Linked DNA regions of Homo sapiens: all the other regions are reported to be linked to region 1. The links are microRNA targets in miRTarBase. Many come from high-throughput screens and were not tested one by one. Region 1 holds a microRNA gene; each other region holds the end of a gene's coding sequence.
What was found. The annotated mature microRNA hsa-miR-1285-5p reads GAUCUCACUUUGUUGCCCAGG and lies in region 1 at 1,532-1,552, opposite strand. An mRNA with a match to its seed (bases 2 to 7 or 8) in the 3' UTR can be bound and repressed. Matches are read on the target gene's strand: a 7mer-m8 pairs with bases 2 to 8, a 7mer-A1 pairs with bases 2 to 7 and ends in A, and an 8mer does both.

Region 2: miRTarBase lists TIGAR as a target of hsa-miR-1285-5p. Seed matches in the 3' UTR shown: 7mer-m8 at 162-168.
Region 3: the mRNA of RPL37A is a reported target of hsa-miR-1285-5p. Seed matches in the 3' UTR shown: 7mer-A1 at 3,602-3,608 and 7mer-A1 at 1,507-1,513.
Region 4: the mRNA of ZNF451 is a reported target of hsa-miR-1285-5p. Seed matches in the 3' UTR shown: 7mer-A1 at 550-556.

The regions. Positions count from the first base shown.
Region 1 is chr7:92,202,536-92,206,535 of GRCh38, forward strand. MIR1285-1 (microRNA 1285-1) reads right to left here and starts at 1,563; the gene lies at 1,480-1,563. The region is part of intron 17 of KRIT1 (KRIT1 ankyrin repeat containing); the gene reads right to left.
Region 2 is chr12:4,351,972-4,356,197 of GRCh38, reverse strand. It overlaps TIGAR (TP53 induced glycolysis regulatory phosphatase), which reads right to left. Exons shown (of 6, transcript NM_020375.3): 6 at 1-3,938. The coding sequence ends at 3,507. Among named protein-coding and RNA genes, the nearest start is that of FGF23, 26 kb to the left of the region's middle.
Region 3 is chr2:216,501,055-216,505,280 of GRCh38, reverse strand. RPL37A (ribosomal protein L37a) reads right to left here. Exons shown (of 4, transcript NM_000998.5): 4 at 1,195-3,940. The coding sequence ends at 3,877. Among named protein-coding and RNA genes, the nearest start is that of RPL37A, 4.3 kb to the right of the region's middle.
Region 4 is chr6:57,167,963-57,172,151 of GRCh38, forward strand. ZNF451 (zinc finger protein 451) reads left to right here. Exons shown (of 15, transcript NM_001031623.3): 15 at 461-2,343. The coding sequence ends at 507. ZNF451-AS1 (ZNF451 regulatory antisense RNA 1) reads right to left here. Exons shown (of 4, transcript NR_110742.1): 1 at 4,112-4,189; 2 at 3,043-3,136. Among named protein-coding and RNA genes, the nearest start is that of ZNF451-AS1, 2.2 kb to the right of the region's middle.

The sequences.
Region 1 (4,000 bases):
TTAGAAGCATTCAGTTTCTATAAATACCAATTCTTATAATATTGACCACAAATACTAAACTAAGAATGTGCCAGAAAGATAATGGGTTAGGGGATTTTTAAAGTGAGGTTCTGTCTGGGAGGCGGAGGTTGCAGTGACCCGAGGTCACGCTACTGCACTCCTGCCTGGGCAACAGTGAGACTCCGTCTAAATAAATAAATAAAATAAATAAAGTGAGGTTCTGTGAATGAAACACAGGTAATTTATGTGAGTATACATTAAGTATAAGGAAAAACTAATAGTATCTTTTAAAAATGGCTATCTACATTTATATTGTAAAATATAACCTTATACATAGGAGGATATACTAAAATAGCTACTTATCAAGGTACAGACTGAACAGAGTCAAGATATCATACTACCTTAAACTGCCTTCTCTTTTAAATCAATCACCTGAAATTTCTTTATTCAAAAGCCACAAAACAGTCCATTAATATGGCTTCAAAACAGTTCAATATACAGAAAAAAATACAACTGTAGTATAGTTACTTCTCAATTATAGAAGTCAAATTTCCAACAAAAGTACTGAGCCTGTAGTTATAGAAGGTAGAAACAACTGACACAAAAAACACAACTGTGTCCCATGGCTTTTCCTATCTCTGACACTAATGTATCCCATGTAGTGTTTTAAATGCAAATGAAGGTATTTTTGCAGATGAAGGTGTTTGCTATGTTTTTGCTAAGCTTGTTGAATGCAATCCTAGTAGACCTTGGTGAATCTAAGACAACTGAGGACAAGCTGGTTGTTCCCACATTTGACGGCTGAAATATGCAACTATCTTAAAGCTTTCAAAGGTGCCATAAATTTATCAGTGGTTTACAGAGAACAAGGTAATGACTAGATGGATAGAAAATACCTTTACTCTTTGGTTCAATCACCTGTTTAGATACCCAAGGATAGCATTTCTATTTATAGTTCAAGAAACTGAACCTCTTATCTAAGGAAAAAGCAGACTGTTAATTAAGAATATTATTGTCATCCTTCTGTCTGTTACTGCTAACTCATTTATTTGAATCCTGGATCAAAGTATTATACATAATATGAAATGTTATATTTAAGTGTTAAATAATATCACTAAACCTTCATTTGAATACTATATAAAACTTTGTATTATTGCCAAAAATTGGAAAGCTAACAAACATAAAATATAGTTTAGAGAAATGGCACAGCATCACCATCCAGTTCTATGAAGAATGATTTGCAGATGTTGGTATAAAATGCTCTGAAACAGCAGAGGAAAAATTTCTTGAAATGGTGGGGGGCATTTCTCCTTCATTTCCTTTAATGAACTTAGTACAAGAGAAATAGAAAAGTGGTTACAAGCTAATAAACAGCAGCCTATTTTGTGTGGGCAAAATAGTTTTAACAGAAAATGAGGATGGTGTGGTGGCTCACACCTGCAATCCCAGCACTTTGTGAGGCTAAGGTGGGAGAATCACCTTGTAGAGATAAGGTCTCACTTTGTTGCCCAGACCAGGAGTTTGAGACCAGCCTGGGCAACAAAGTGAGATCCTATCTCTACAAATAATAAAAAAATTAGCTGGGTGTGGTGGCATATGCCTGTAGTCCCAACTACTTGGGAGGCTGAGGCAGGAGGACTGCCTGAGCCTAGGAGTTTGCAGCTGCACTGAGCTATGATGGTGCCGCTGCACTCCAGCCTGGGCAAAAGAGTGAGACTGTGTCCCAAGGAAAAAAAAAAAAGGAAAGAAAAAGAAAATGATAAGCAAATGACCCAAAAGCAAGGTGACCGCAAGAGAGCAGTGCCCAACCTTTTTGGTGCCAGGGATCGGTTTCGTGGCAGACAATTCTTCCACAGACAGGGGTGTCAGGGATGGTTTTGGGATGATTCAAGCCCATTTTATTTATAGTGCACTTTATTTCTATTACTATTATATTGTAATATGTAACGAAATAATTATACAACTCACCACAATGTAAAATCACTGGGAGCCCTGAGCTTGTTTTCCTGCAACTAGATGGTCCCATCTGGGGGTGATGGGAGGCAGTGACAGATCATCAGGCATTACATTCTCATAAGGGGCATGAAACCTAGATCCCTTGCATGTGCAATTCAAAAGAGGGTTCATGTTCCTATAAGAATCTAATGCCACCGTTGATCTGACAGGAGGCAGAGCTCAGATGGTAATGCAAGTGATAGGGAGTGCTGTAAATACAGATGAAGCTTTGCTTGCTGCTCATCTGCTGTGCGGCCCGGTTCCTTACAGGCCATGGACCGGTACCAGTCCATGGCCTGGGTGTTGGGGACCCCTGCTAGAAGAGACTTCAAGAAATTAAGCTCCAGGTCATTACTAAAATCAGACTCTATTCCACCCTATGTTCCTAGATATTTTATCTCCATTCACGTGTGTATCTATCAAAGTAACTGTTGCCCTTAAAGATAACCCTGAAAATTAATATAAAATGACTAAACTATGACTGGGATATTTCAGGAGTTATGTGATTATAAAGACCTATCAAGACACATAAAGGGGCGAGCACGGTGGCTCATACCTGTAATCCCAGCACTTTGGGAGGGCGAGGCAGTCGGATCACCTGAGGTCAGGTGTTCGAGACTGGCCTGACCAACATGGAGAAACCCCCTCTCTACTAAAAATGCAAAATCAGCCAGGTGTGGTGGCACATGCCTATAATCCCATCTAGTTGGGAGGCTGAGGCAGGAGAATCGCTTGAACCCCGGAGGCAGAGGTTGCAGTGAGCCAAGATCACGCCATTGCACTGCAGCCTGGGCAACAAAAGCGAAACTCATCTCAACAACAACAACAACAAAAAAGACACATAAAAATGAGGAAAATAAAAACTGGGTTTACAGTGAAATTTCCTAATCTAAATGCCTTTTAAAAATGCATAAGCTTCATTATTACTTTAACTGATTTGGTCTATTCTTAACAAATCTTAATTAACAAATTACGAGGCAGGTGGATCACTTGAGGTCAGAAGTTCGAGACCAGCCTGGCAAACATGGTGAAACCCCCCTATGAAAAACACAAAAATTAGGTGGGCTTGGTGGTTCATGCTTGTAATCCCAGCTACTTGAGAGGCTAAAGCGGGAGGACTGCTTGAACCTAGGAGGCAGAGGTTGTAGTGAGCCAAGATCACACCACTGCGTCCAGCCTGGGTGACAGAGCAAGACTCTGTCTCAAAAAACAAAACAAAATGAAACAAATTAGATTTGATTTTTATTAGCTTCCTATTATAAACTAAAAAGCTGTTCATCCCATTTAAATGTGTTAAATATGCCAAAAAATAACTGATAAACCTGTATTTTATAATGACTTACGGTTAGAAAAAGGAGCACCATAAACTAACTTCTAACTGAAGAGCTCTAAAGTGGGATTGAAAAGGGTCTAACCCACCTACTGCTGCTGTCACCTGTGCACATAGTGCCAGGAGGTCAACCCACCTGCCTGCCACCAGCACCTGCAAACTCCAGAGGTGGGCTTGGAGAGAAGCCTGCCCTGCCCACCACTGCCACCAGCACACATTATCTAGGGTCCTAAGGACAAGCCTGCTCTGCCCACTGCCACTGTCAACTGTGCCTAAGCATGCCATCTAAGGGCCTGAGGACTGACTCAACTAGCACGCTGCTGCCATTGCCTGCATACACCATCAGAGGGCCTGACGACAGGCCTGTTCTGCCTGCTGTTGGTGCCTGTGCATTTCATCTGGGGCCTTAAGTACTGTTATGCTCTGCCTATGCCTGCTGGCGCCCACATGTACTATCTAGGGGCCTGAGGAAAGGCATGCCCTGCCTACTGGCACAACTACTAGTGCCTGAGCACTGGTCTACCTGGAGTCACAGTCCCCAGAAAAGCCTACTACAGCCTTCATTAACAACCACAGTCTAAGCCACTGAGGGACTCTCAGACACCGCTAATGCTCATTAAAGCTGAAGAAATCACAGGGAGACTATACTACTGCACTCACCCAGAATCAAAGCCA
Region 2 (4,226 bases), not on the chromosome of region 1:
TGCTTCTTCAAATGGCCCAACAGCCAGTGCTGCCATCTTCCCTGCCTCCAACCTTGTGCTCCTATAGCACCCCCTACAGCCTGCTCTCCACATTGCAAGCAGGATGGTCCTGCTGAAACAAGTCTGATCACATCACTGCCCAAACTGGCCAATGGCATCTCATCTCACTTGAGTAAAAGCCCAAGGCCTCAGCACAGGCCACCAGGCCATGTGGCCTGTCCTCTTCTCCCGTCACTCTCCCATCCCCCTTGCTCAAAGGAGTCAAGCCTGATCCTTCCTCATGGCCTCTGCACTCTACTCCTTCCATGCTGCTCCTCTCCCCAGAGCAGCAGATCTTACATCCTTCAGTGCTGACACCATCGAGTCCTCCCTGCCCATCCTGGATAAAGCAGCATTCCTCCCACCAGTCTCCATCCCCCTTACTCTGACCTATTTTGCTCAACAGCACTGACCACAATGTGAGCCAACACACTGTCTTCTCTGACAGAACAAATGTTCCACAAGGACAGAGACTTTGTTTTGGTTCATGGCTACATATTCACAGCTTTATCATAGTTGTAGTAGTTCTTAAAATAGCCTGGCATGTGTGTGCCATGCTCAAAAAATACGTATTGAATAGATGAAGAGATGCATGTGACTCCAATAAAATTTGTAACAGAATTTTTCTGGAAATTGACCAATTGATTCCAAAATTTATATGGAAGAATAAAAGTGCATAAATAGTTAAGACAACTTTAAAAATGAACAAGAGGAGGTATCCACCCTTTAAGACAGTCAGCTGCAAAGCCACAGTAACTAAGTATGACACTGATAAGGAAATACACAGATAACTAAAAGAGTCCACAGACTCTAGCAAATGAGGGGGTGTGAGGCCTGAGAGCACACACCACAAACCAATTGGGAAAGAACAGCCTTTACAATGGTGTTGGGATAACTGTTTCAACCACATGAAAAAAAAAATTAAATTCTTACCTTATACTATAAAAAGCAAATTTCAATTTCAAGATTTGACATTCAGAAGTTCTCAAAAACTGTAAGAAGACATTACTGTATGACCTCATGGTAGAGAAGTCTTCTTAAAGATACACACCAAAAAAACCCCATAAAGGATAAGGTATATTGGTTTGTCTTAAAAATTAAGAACACATATTAAAAAAATGCATCATAGGCCAGGCACGGTGGCTTATGCCTGCAATCCCAGCACTTTGGAAGGCCAAGGCAGGTGGATCACCTGAGGTCAGAAGTTCAAGACCAGCCTGGCCAACATGGCGAAACCCCGTCTCTACTAAAAAAAAAAAAAAGGCCAGGCGTGGTGGTGCATGCCTGTAGTCCCAGCTACTCAGGAGGCTGAGGCACAAGAATTGCTTGAACCCGAGAGGTGGAGGTTGCAGTGAGCCAAGATCACGCCATTGCACCCCAGCCTGGGCAACAGAGAGAGACTCTGTCTCCAAAAAAAAAAAAAAAGAAAAAAAGCAAAGAAAATAAAAACTGAATATACCTAAATGCCCACTAATAAACAAAAATGTGCTATATTTAATAGAATAGAGTGGTTATAATTAACTAGATCTATATATATCAACACAGAGATGCCTCCAAGACATAAGTAAAAATAAAGAACACAGATGGCTTGATATTTATTTTTAAAGCACCAAAACAGTACCATCTCCTTCCAGACACTAGGTGAAAATATAAGGAACAGATGAACATTGCAAGCAGATGAACAGGTGAACATATACACAGACTCACTGCAGTGGCTGCCTCTGGAGGGAACAGGACTGTGAGAGCTGGTTAAAGAGAACTCTACTTTTATCTTTATGTTTTGTTTCTTTAAAAAAAAAAGTGGAAAGATGACTTCAGTATGGTGGGAATGGAGATAATTATTGTCTGTCCTTTTTGCTTATTTTTCAAATTTTTATTTACAGTATACTTCCTCTGATGCTCAAACACGTGCCCTGTTTCAATACTGGTAGAAAACTGGTAGTGCTAGACACACTAAGAACAATATAATACTGAATTTTACATATGATTTAAAATGATGTCAAAGTAAATTTTGACTATATGTGACTATAGCCTTAACTGACAACTTTAGTATTAACCCTCTTTAAAGTTGAGACTCACAGCATTTAGCAACATGGTGACTTAAAAGCGAACTACATGTAGAACAGTTTCTTCATTTAGATAAAGATTTCTGAAAGACCAATCTTGTGTATAAAATTAAGTTAATCAAAATCCCTTTTCTCCAGTGCCATCTGGTGGAAAGAAGAGGCAACCTCACCTGTACCTGCCACAAAATAACCACAGCTGTGGTTATCAGAGCAACATTCTCTCCCCCCCAACCACCCCGCCTTCCCTGCCCGCAGAGCACCCTCTGTCATCCCCTCTGTCACCTAGGCTGGAGTGAAGTGGTGCGATCTCGGCTCACTGCAACCTCCACCTCCCGGGTTCAAGCGATTCTCCTGCCTCAACCTCCCAAGTAGCTGGGATTACAGGCGCCTGCTACCACGCCTGGCTTTTTTGTATTTGTAGTAGAGACAGGGTTTCACCATTGTTGGCCAGGCTGGTCTAGAATTCCTGACCTTGTGATCCGCCCGCCTCAGCCTCCCAAAGTGCTGGGATTACAGGTGTGAGCCACTGGGCCCGGCCCAGAGCACCATTCTTTACAAAGAAGGCCCCTCTTTTATTCTGATTACTGTGTGGTGTTCTGTTAACTGTTTACTTTCTTTAGAGCCTTCCTCAAACTGGAAATTCTTCAGCCTACAGGTTAGATAAGAAGCAAGTGGATATTCTTCATTTTTTTGGCTTTCCTGGTTTCCATTGACTTGACTTTGGCAAGGCATTATTTAGAAAAGGCTGTTCTTCTATCTTCTGCTCCAAGATTCTTTCTTTACTGTATTTAAATCAAATGTTTTAACTTCTTCCCCCAGACCATTCTGCAATCATAATCTGTATTCATCCACATTTCAAGCCCTCTAGAATAAAAAATTCCAATAGTTGATTTATACGTAAAACATGTTAGTGTTATTTTGCTTTACATAAACTTATAAGGATTTTTTATTTAAAGGATTTAAAAATATAACACAGTCAATATAAACATGTACTGGGAATTATAAACCATTCTTTCTTCTAAGCACTGGATGAGATACTAAAAACATACAGTATCTTACCAATAGCCATTAAAATAGGCTAAAATGAAAAAGAAACCGTTGTAACAAGGTTACTAATCCCCCAACTTTCAATGCTGAGTTCCTTCATCATCCATGTGCAATCCAGAGATGACATCTAGCAGGGTGGTAAAATTATTCTGGAAAATGCCAACTGTACTTGGACAAAATAAGTTAATTCTATATGGTTGTCCATTAAAGTTTTATGTGGCTATGGTTCCACTGGAGCTAAAAATTGGCTTTTAACTGTTTCCAAATCAGAACTAGCAGAGGAGAGAAGTAAATAAAGCCAATGGCACTCCCTTCAGAGGCTCAAAATGGTTAGATTTTGATGCAGATTTAACCTTAGCGAGTTTCAGTCAGTCCATTTAGATGATCCTGTAGGTTCATACAAATACACTGAACCGTTGGTTTAACTTCTCTTCCTTCCTCAAAGTTTATGATAAAGAGACTCATCCCTGTATTGGGAGTGACTGACATAAGTTCAGATCTGCTCAGAGTGGCTGGTAAGGAACACTTAAGGTCAGTCAGAAAATAATCAAACAGACTTCTCATGTAAGCACCGTGACTCACAACTAAGACACTGGCTGCTAATCCTGGAATACCGCTGTCTGAATTAACTTTAGAGCTGTGATTTTTTCCTAAAGGAAATATCTCTGCCAAAGAAGTTTCCAGACAGTTGCTTGGAGATCCTTGGGAAAACTGTTCTTTTTGATCCGCTTCTTTCAGGATTAGTTGACAAAGAAATTCAAAAAAGTCTATTCCACGCATTTTCACCTACAAGAAAAGAAATAAAAGTCAAAATAAAGTGACATTAATGACTTCCTTAAAACGTTAACATAGAACATAACTGACTGGATTTTTTTCTAATATTGAATGCCAAGTACTACACAAGCAGAAGAATATCAATCTACATTTCTATTCGTTCAATCAGTAGTTTCATGGACATATATAAGTATCCACCACATTTCTGGAATTACAAAAGCACCATGGAGACCAAGATGAAGAAGATCCAATTCCCAATTCCTGAGTTCAAAGCACTCACGGTCTAGTTAGGGAAATCTA
Region 3 (4,226 bases), not on the chromosome of region 1:
GTAATCCCAGCTACTTGGGAGGCTGAGGAAGGAGAATCGCTTGAATTCAGGAGGCAGAAGTTGCAGTGAGCCCAAGATCATGACACTGCACTCCAGCCTGGCGACAGAGCAAGACTCTATCTCGGGGGAAAAAAAAAAAAGATTGAAGTTCAGGAGAGGATTAAATAATTCCTCCAAGGTCACACAACTAGTATAGCAGAACAACCAAATAACTCCTGCTTGACTCTAGAATCCACATTATTATTATTTTTTTTTTTTTTGGTTAAGACGGAGTCTTGCTCTGTCGCCCAGGCTGCAGTGCAGTCTCAGCTCATACCATTGTCCTGCCTCAGCCTCCACATTCTTAACCATTATGCTGGAGACAGTTCTTGTCCTTTCCAACTGTTGTTTATGTTCCTGAATAAATTTGAGAAACATTTTGCACAGCTCTGGGGTTAAAAAGAAAAATTAGCATTCTGATTGGAATTGGCATGTATATATACATAATTACTTCAGGAGGAAATAACACTTTCACCAGTTTTCTAACTCAAAGAGTTTATAATTAAGCTTAATTAAGCATACTGTTTCCCCCCTGCTATAGTGGGACTTAAGGATGGTGATCATGTCCTGTCCATACTGCAGGGAGTGGTCAACAAAGGCTGGTTTAATGAACAGTCTCTACCCTCAACTAAGCCCCTGCTTCATTAAGTGAACCCATAAAAATACCTGTGGGTCTTTGTGTCAACCATACCACCCACTCTCCCGACACTACTCTGCTCTCAAGGGCCCTGACATACAGGGTTGATTGTGGCATGACATTAACTTGACCCTCAACTTATCTTGATGTACCCCAAAGCATATAAACAATGTTTCCATTCCCTGTTGATGAATTCTGACCTGAAGTGCTATCAACAAAATGGCTTTTAGTTTCCCAGAGGAAGACAGCCAACAGTAAAAACGTTGTACAGATTGCTTGGTTCTAGTTGCTTACATTCCCAAGTTGATGTATTTTTTCCAATCTTAAACAGATCCTCCCCAAACCCCTTCAGTCCCAGTTCTCCACCTCACCTGTTGCTGACAAAACAAAGCTCAAGCTTCCCCATGTCTCAACTTCATACCCAAAAGAAAACTTGGAATTAGACGTGATTCTGTATTGGCTAATCTGTACATTTATCACAGCCACCCGCCTAGTTAGGATACAATGAAATGGCCTGGTGAAAAACACAAGCCTAACTTACTTTTTATATCACAACACAATGTTCAATTAGATGACTTAGAGTCAAAGGCTCAGAAAACCACTGTGAAAACAAGCCAGGGGATGAAGTTGCTTAAATAACAAAACGAAGGTGGGCCATCTTTAGCATGGGAAGAGGCAGGTAAGGAATACTGAGCCCATAAAATAGAAGGCAGACTGGTACAGCAGAAAATCACAGATAGGAGCCAGAAATCTAATCTTCAGCCCTATCTACATCACCTGCCTCCCTATCATCTTGGGAAAATCACTATTTCCTTAGGTATAAAAATATTTATCTCAGCACTTTCACTGGTCTGTAAACTGTCCCCCGCCCTTTCCTCTTTTAACTGTCATAAAAAAGCAATACATGGCTGGGTGAGGTGGCTTACAGAATCCCAGCACTTTGGGAGGCCAAGGCAGACGTTATCAGTTGAGCCTGGGAGTTTGAGACCAGCCTGGTCAACATGGCGAAAGCCCATCTCTACTAAAAATAAAAAATACAAAAACTAGCTGAGCTTTGTGGCATAAGCCTGTAATCCCAGCTACTTCGGAGGCTGAGGCACGAGAACTGCTTGAACCCGGGAGGTAGAGGCTGCAGTGAACTGAGATCATGCCACTGCACTTCAGCCTGGGTGACAGACACTCTCTCAGAAAACAAACAAAAAGCAGTACTTCACTGATTATAAAAACCGAAGTTTTCCATGCCTAATCATGTAACATAGCAGCTTTGTAAGACTCCAAATTAATAATCCAAACACCCAGCATATACTCCATTCTACTACCAAGAATTATACAGGAAACTGAAGCAGAGAGGTTAAGTCACTTAACCCAAGTCACCCAACTATCTAGGCAGTTTGGCTAAGTTGGTGTTCTTAACCGCAGCATTAGACCATCTAATGCTCATTCAATTCCCTATGCTTACATGAAATCCTGGTCACTCACCTGGAGATCCTATGGAGAATTCTCCAGGAGATTCACCTGGAGAGCTGTGTCATTCCTATGAAGCCTGAAAATCCTGACTTGTCACTCCTGGTCCTACCCCTACTGACCCACAGTACTTGCTTCACATTACAAAATCAGTAGGAGTACCATTTTGTGACACAAATGAGATCCACAGATGAGTTACTGCTATGGATCTAGCAAATGCCTGACCCAGTGAAGTATTCTCCTGGGGTAGCGATGTTTCTGCCAGAGGCAATGCAGGAGGTACAGGTGAAGGGAGACATCCGTGCAAAGGCCAGTAATGAGCAAAAAAACAAGTTATAGAAGATAGGGGTCAGACCAAGTGAAATAAAGGTTTTTACTCTGTCCTAAAGATGAAGTAAATCCACATTCTTATCGAATTAAATTTGCATCCTTAAAGGACTACTGACTCTGGGATAGATAAAAGACATACCAATTAGGAGGACTGAGAAGTCCATACCACAGATGGTTGAGGAGTTAGACTAAATTGGCAGTGAATTAAGTGCATAAAAGTGTCAAAGGCAGGCCTAAAATAACTCGAATTCTCCAAGGCAATTCATTTTTTTGTTACTACAACCATCTGTCAATCTGAAATCAATCCTACGAATCCTTACGTGCAAACTAAAAACTGGAGAATTGCAGACGTTTGCAACATTTAATGTGAAATTAGTTTCATACTGTTTCCTGAAGATGCTGATGGTGTAGGTCAAATGAAACATCATAGAAGAGGCAGTATATGTATATCCTTTAGTATATCTTTTACCTTCAGAAACTTTTTTTTGGAGACAGAGTGTTGTCCTGGCTAAATAAAGTGCAGTGGCACGATCCTGGCCCACTGCAACCTCCGCCTCGTAGGTTCAAGTGATTCTTGTGCCTGAGCCTCCAAAGTAGCTGGGATTACAGGCATGTGCCACCATACCAAGCTATTTTTTGTATTTTTCGTCGAGACGGGTTTTTGCTATGTTGGCCACACTGGTCTCAATCTCCTGGCCTCAAGTAATCCACCTGCCTCAGCCACCCAAAGTGCTGGGATTTCAGGCGTGAGTCACCGCACCCAGCCTAGACACATTATAAAAATATTAAATGCAAGGCTGGGCGTGGTGGCTCACACCTGTAATCCCAGCACTCTGGAAGGCCAAGGCAGGTGGATCGCTTGAGGTCAGTTCAAGAACAGCCTGGCCAATGTGGTGAAAACTCCATCTCTACTCAAAATACAAAAATTAGCCAGGTATGGTGGTGCGTGCCTGTAATCCCAGCTACTCAGGAGGCTGAGGCAGGAGAATCGCTTGAACCTAAGAAGTGGAGGTTGAAGTGGGCCAAGACTGGTATACTGCACTCCAGCCTGGGTAACAGAGACTCCGCCTCAAAAACAAACAAAAAAACTAACTGTAATTTAAAAACTAAAGTTTACAGTTGGCTCCAATGTATCTCAAAGTCAAACTGGCAGGAGCAGACTTATAAAAAGCTAACACTCATATCTAACTTGGAAGACTTATATTCTTATGCTGCATTTTACCATTTGACTACTAAAAAAGACACTGAATTACAATAATCCATCTTGGCATGCTTTTCCAATACAACAGTATTTACACAATGCAAACATCAGAATGTCTAATAAAGTTAACAAGCCAAGGCAATTTTGTTACATAAATTAACCCATTTATTATAGGCCAGTGATGTCTCAAAGAGTAGAGGAGCGTCTACTGGTCTTTCAACTCCTTCAGTCTTCTGATGGCGGACTTTACCGTGACAGCGGAAGTGGTACTGGAAAGAAAGATTCAGTTTCCAACATAATTAAGCATGTTAACATAGAAAATGGCAAATAAGTAAATCTGCCTCGTTTTTGTGTTAAAGTCGCTTCCCAAATTTTCCTAGAAAGAATTATACTGAGATAGACTGCTCTACCAATACTTTGCTGCAGTCAATCCAAAGATCTAACCAACATTAGATTACTCCTCGGAAATTAGTGGCTTCTAAACTACATGATGGCATCCTTTAAGAGCCATGCCTTCAGGATCTTGCAGAATTAGACATACAATCTCATGCATCT
Region 4 (4,189 bases), not on the chromosome of region 1:
TAATTTTTCCCCAGCTTTATTGAGGTATAATTAAAAATTAAACTAAATTTTTAATGGCCTGTGACATTTTGTCATTTCATGGAGTTGCCTTTCTGTTTAAAGTCTTATATGTATCACCTCAAGTCTTTTAGCAAATAAGTGATACAGATTTTTTTTTAAATGTTGAAACAAATGATTACCTGTCAGTGATTTTAAAAGTTTGTTGACTTTCTACATTCCTAAGTGGAATTAACTTGCAAGTTCTAAGTTCATATATAAAATTCAATTCAAGATCATGTCTAGATTTTCATATTTCAAAATACTCAATTTTTTAGTAGAGAAACTGCCAAGTTATCCTGTGTTTTTCCATTTTGATTTTACTTTCCTTCTTGAAAAGAATACAGTCGATGAAACTTAAATAAATACAGCACATGTTGAGTTTTCTGCCCTAAGTGTTAAAATTCTATGTTTTTTAATGCAGATGTGGAATTAGAAGAAGCTATTAGAAGAAGTCTTGAGGAAATGTAATTAAAGATATTACCACACAACATCAAGTGGCCTTGAAGAGACTGAGATAACGAATTCTTGAGTTTGTTTTCTAAAGGAGACCAGAAATCCACTATTACAAATGTATTTGAAAACATGTTTTTGCTTTCATATGTTCAAAATCTGATCTTTGTTTTGTATTTTTGTGCTAATGTGCAAACATGTACAGAAGAAATAGAATACATGTTCATGCAAATATAAATTATGTATTCTAATATAGGTGTAACAGTTTCCCAGTTAACTTTGAATTTATATATTTAGATTTAAAGGATTAAAAAAAAGGAAAGCTCTTGACAGTTGTTTCCCAAATAGCATTAGTTCTTTAATTTTATTTGTACTGTACAAATGATGCTAGTTTATTTTTTTAGCAGTGAAAATGAATATAAAAAAGGTGACATAGGTCAAGTTTTCCATAAATTCTACTTCTCATGTGGCACTATTATATAATACCTTTGAGATCTTTGTTTATGTTTATTAGAAGAGGGTAATGGAAACTGATCATGGAAACATTTAAAATTTTATCAGCAATGTTCTTTGTGGGTGCCATGCATATGTAAATTATTGCTTTAATTAGAGCAGCACATTGCTAAAATAAAAAATACACCTTAATTTTTAAGAAATAATTTAAATGAAACAATTTCCATTCCTTTTACCTGCTTAGACTTTTATGTGACTTGTATGGTCTCCTGGTTAAAGGGAATGGTGTCAGAATATTTGCATAAAATTATTTTTCATAACAGTCCTTTTTTATATATTGGTGTAAACATAATATTCTTCAAGAAATAATGTTGAAAGCCTACTCAGGAATAATCTTCCTTAACTCTTTAAATTTTTATTTCATGTGAAGTGTTTTCAGTTTAGTTATTCACTGAATTGTCAGTTTCCTTCATTTGGTATTACATATTTAATTCTTAAATATTGAGGCCCCATTGTGAGTAATAAAAAATACGACATAAGTAGAAGACTAAGAAGGGCTTGTCATATTATCTTTGTGTATATGCTTCATGTTATTTAACCAGAAATGTCTTATCTCTAAAAATTTTTAGTAGTAATTATTTACCAAACTTAAAAACATTTCTATAAATATAAAGCTTTTCTTTATATTTAAGACAAAATATAAAGGCTAGAATTTGGTTCCTTCTCTGTAACACTAAATATTTTAGTGTGAAATTGAATTTTTTTATTACTATAGTCTTTTCAATCTATAATTTGTGTTTTTAATTTCTTGATATGTCACTTCTGTTCCTCCCTGCTTGCATTTTTTAAAAACTAGACATTGTGGCTTGAGAATTTATCAATCATCTTTCCGAAATGACCACATTGTGCTTTTAGTTTGTATGTTTAAGTGGTCAAGCAAGGCTCTAGGAGGTAGTCACTGAGCTGGACCTTAAACACATCTGCAGGAGCTCACAAAATGGGAGCAAAAGAGGCATTCCAGAAAGAAGAGTAGTTAAGCAGATGTGGGGGCAGGGCAAGAGGAGACAGCACCTTGTTGCCAGAGATTCTACACAAAGGTGTGATGGACACTGATGCTCTATTAAGAAGCTTTTGTGGTGTGTGTGGTAGAGAATAATTAAGGCTTCTGATAAGACAGGAAAGGGATATTTCATCATGACTGTTAAGAAAAGGTAACTGGGTTGTTTAATGTTTTAATTGATAATTGTCACTGATCGTATTTCTACTTGTTAAATAATTAAAAATCATCTTAAAATTCATACTTTGACTTTAATTTAGACACAAGGAGATGTAATCGCTGTGTAACATCAGAGAAAGCTATATGGATTATCGTCAGAAGTAAATGTTTCTAACATTGACAAAGATGCTTATCTTTTCATTACATCATTCACTCATTAATTCATTCAATCACAAAATATTGAGTACCCACCATGTGCCAGCAACTGTTCTAAGCACTTGGAATATACCAGTAAGCAAAACAAAGCCCTTACCCCTCTGTGGAGCACATATTGGTGGAGAGGAGGGGATTGTACAATGTTAGTAAGCAAGGCAATAAAACTGCATATCTGATGGTGATACGTGTAACGACGGAAAATAAAGAAGGGAAGGGAATAAATAGTGCAGGGACAGGGAGTTGGGGGGAGGCTTGCTATTTTTAATAGGGTTGTCAGAAAAGATCTCACTGATAGGTAAACTTGAGCAAAGACCTGAAGAAGGTGAGGGAATGAGGATGAAAATACATATCGGGAAGAGAGTTCCAGGTGGAGGAGGTTAAGGTCCAGACAGGAGCTTAGTATATTCAAGGAAAAGCAAGAAGACTAGTATGGCTGACAGGATGAGCTAGGAGAGTAATAGGAAATGAACTTACTGAGGTTTTTCTAATGACCTGGGCTTTTACTTTGAGGTAAGGAGCCAGTGAAGGTTTCTGAGAATAAATGGTATGATCTGCCTTATTTAGGATTGCTGTAGTTGCTGCACTGAGATAACATGTACATGAGAGGCAAGAGTAGAAGCAGGGAGACCAGAGAGGAAGGTATTGTAGTATTCCAGGTGCAAACTCACCAGGTAGCTTGAACCAGAATGGTGGCGGTAGAATTGGGAAGAATCTGGATATATTCTGAAGGCAAAATTGATGGGGTTTACTAATGGTGTGGATCTAGGATAAGAGAGAAAAAGAGTTCAGGATGATTCTAAAGTCACTTGATAGACTTTCAAACCACTCACAAAATGTGTTTTGTTTTCGTTTGTGTCATGATAAAGTTATTTTTAATAAGGTCAAATAATCCCCTACCCCAAGAGTTAATTAGGATTTAAAATGAGTTCAGAGGGAATTGGGATCCAGCCTTAAGGGCTTCAACTCTGTTCAAGTATTTAAATGGCTTTGATCTCTGATTAAAGGTGGTGGCTCAGCTTTAAACTATTATTATCTATCATTTTCTGTGCCCTGTACATTGTCATCCTTGCAATGAGAGGCATAGAGCTATCAGGAGAGGGGACTAAAGCCTAACTTTTTAAGTAGACTAATCTTTGTATCCTCAGCTCTATTCCGTCTTTTACCGACAGCTGGTGCCTGACCTAGAGGCCTACTGCATCTTTTTTGTTAACAGGATTTTTAAAAGTTGAGGACTTTTTAATGCCAATTATTTCACTCAGAATATTTATTTATTTATTTATTTTTTTGAGACAAGGTCTCGCTCTATCGCCCAGGCTGGAGTGCAGTGGCGAGATCTCGGCTCGCTCAACAGGAATAATTTTAATAGCAAAAATTTAAAACCCCTTCATTAAGCCAGGCGTGGTGGTTCACATCTGTAATCCCAGCACTTTGGGAGGCTGAGGTGGGAGGACCGCTTGAACCCGGGAGGTCGAGGCTGCAGTAAGTCGTGATCGCGCCACTACACTCCAACGTGGGCGACAGTTAGACCCCATCTCAAAAACAAAAGAAAATTAGAATGGTAAAAATGAAGTAAATTCACTTTGCTTCCCACATCTAGCTAGACAGGGAAAGATGGAGTAGCTTTTTCTTTTTTACTTCATAGCTTCAGTGTTGTCCGGGCTTTCATTACTCTCATCTCAGTATAAAGTGGTAACAGGAAGGTCAGGTGAGTGTGGGCTGCCTACGAGCTGTACTTACTGCCTTCTGTTTCACAAAAGGACGTTTTCTCCCCATAATGTCGTTGTTCTTGCTTTGAATTATGGGTGCTGGGAGAAA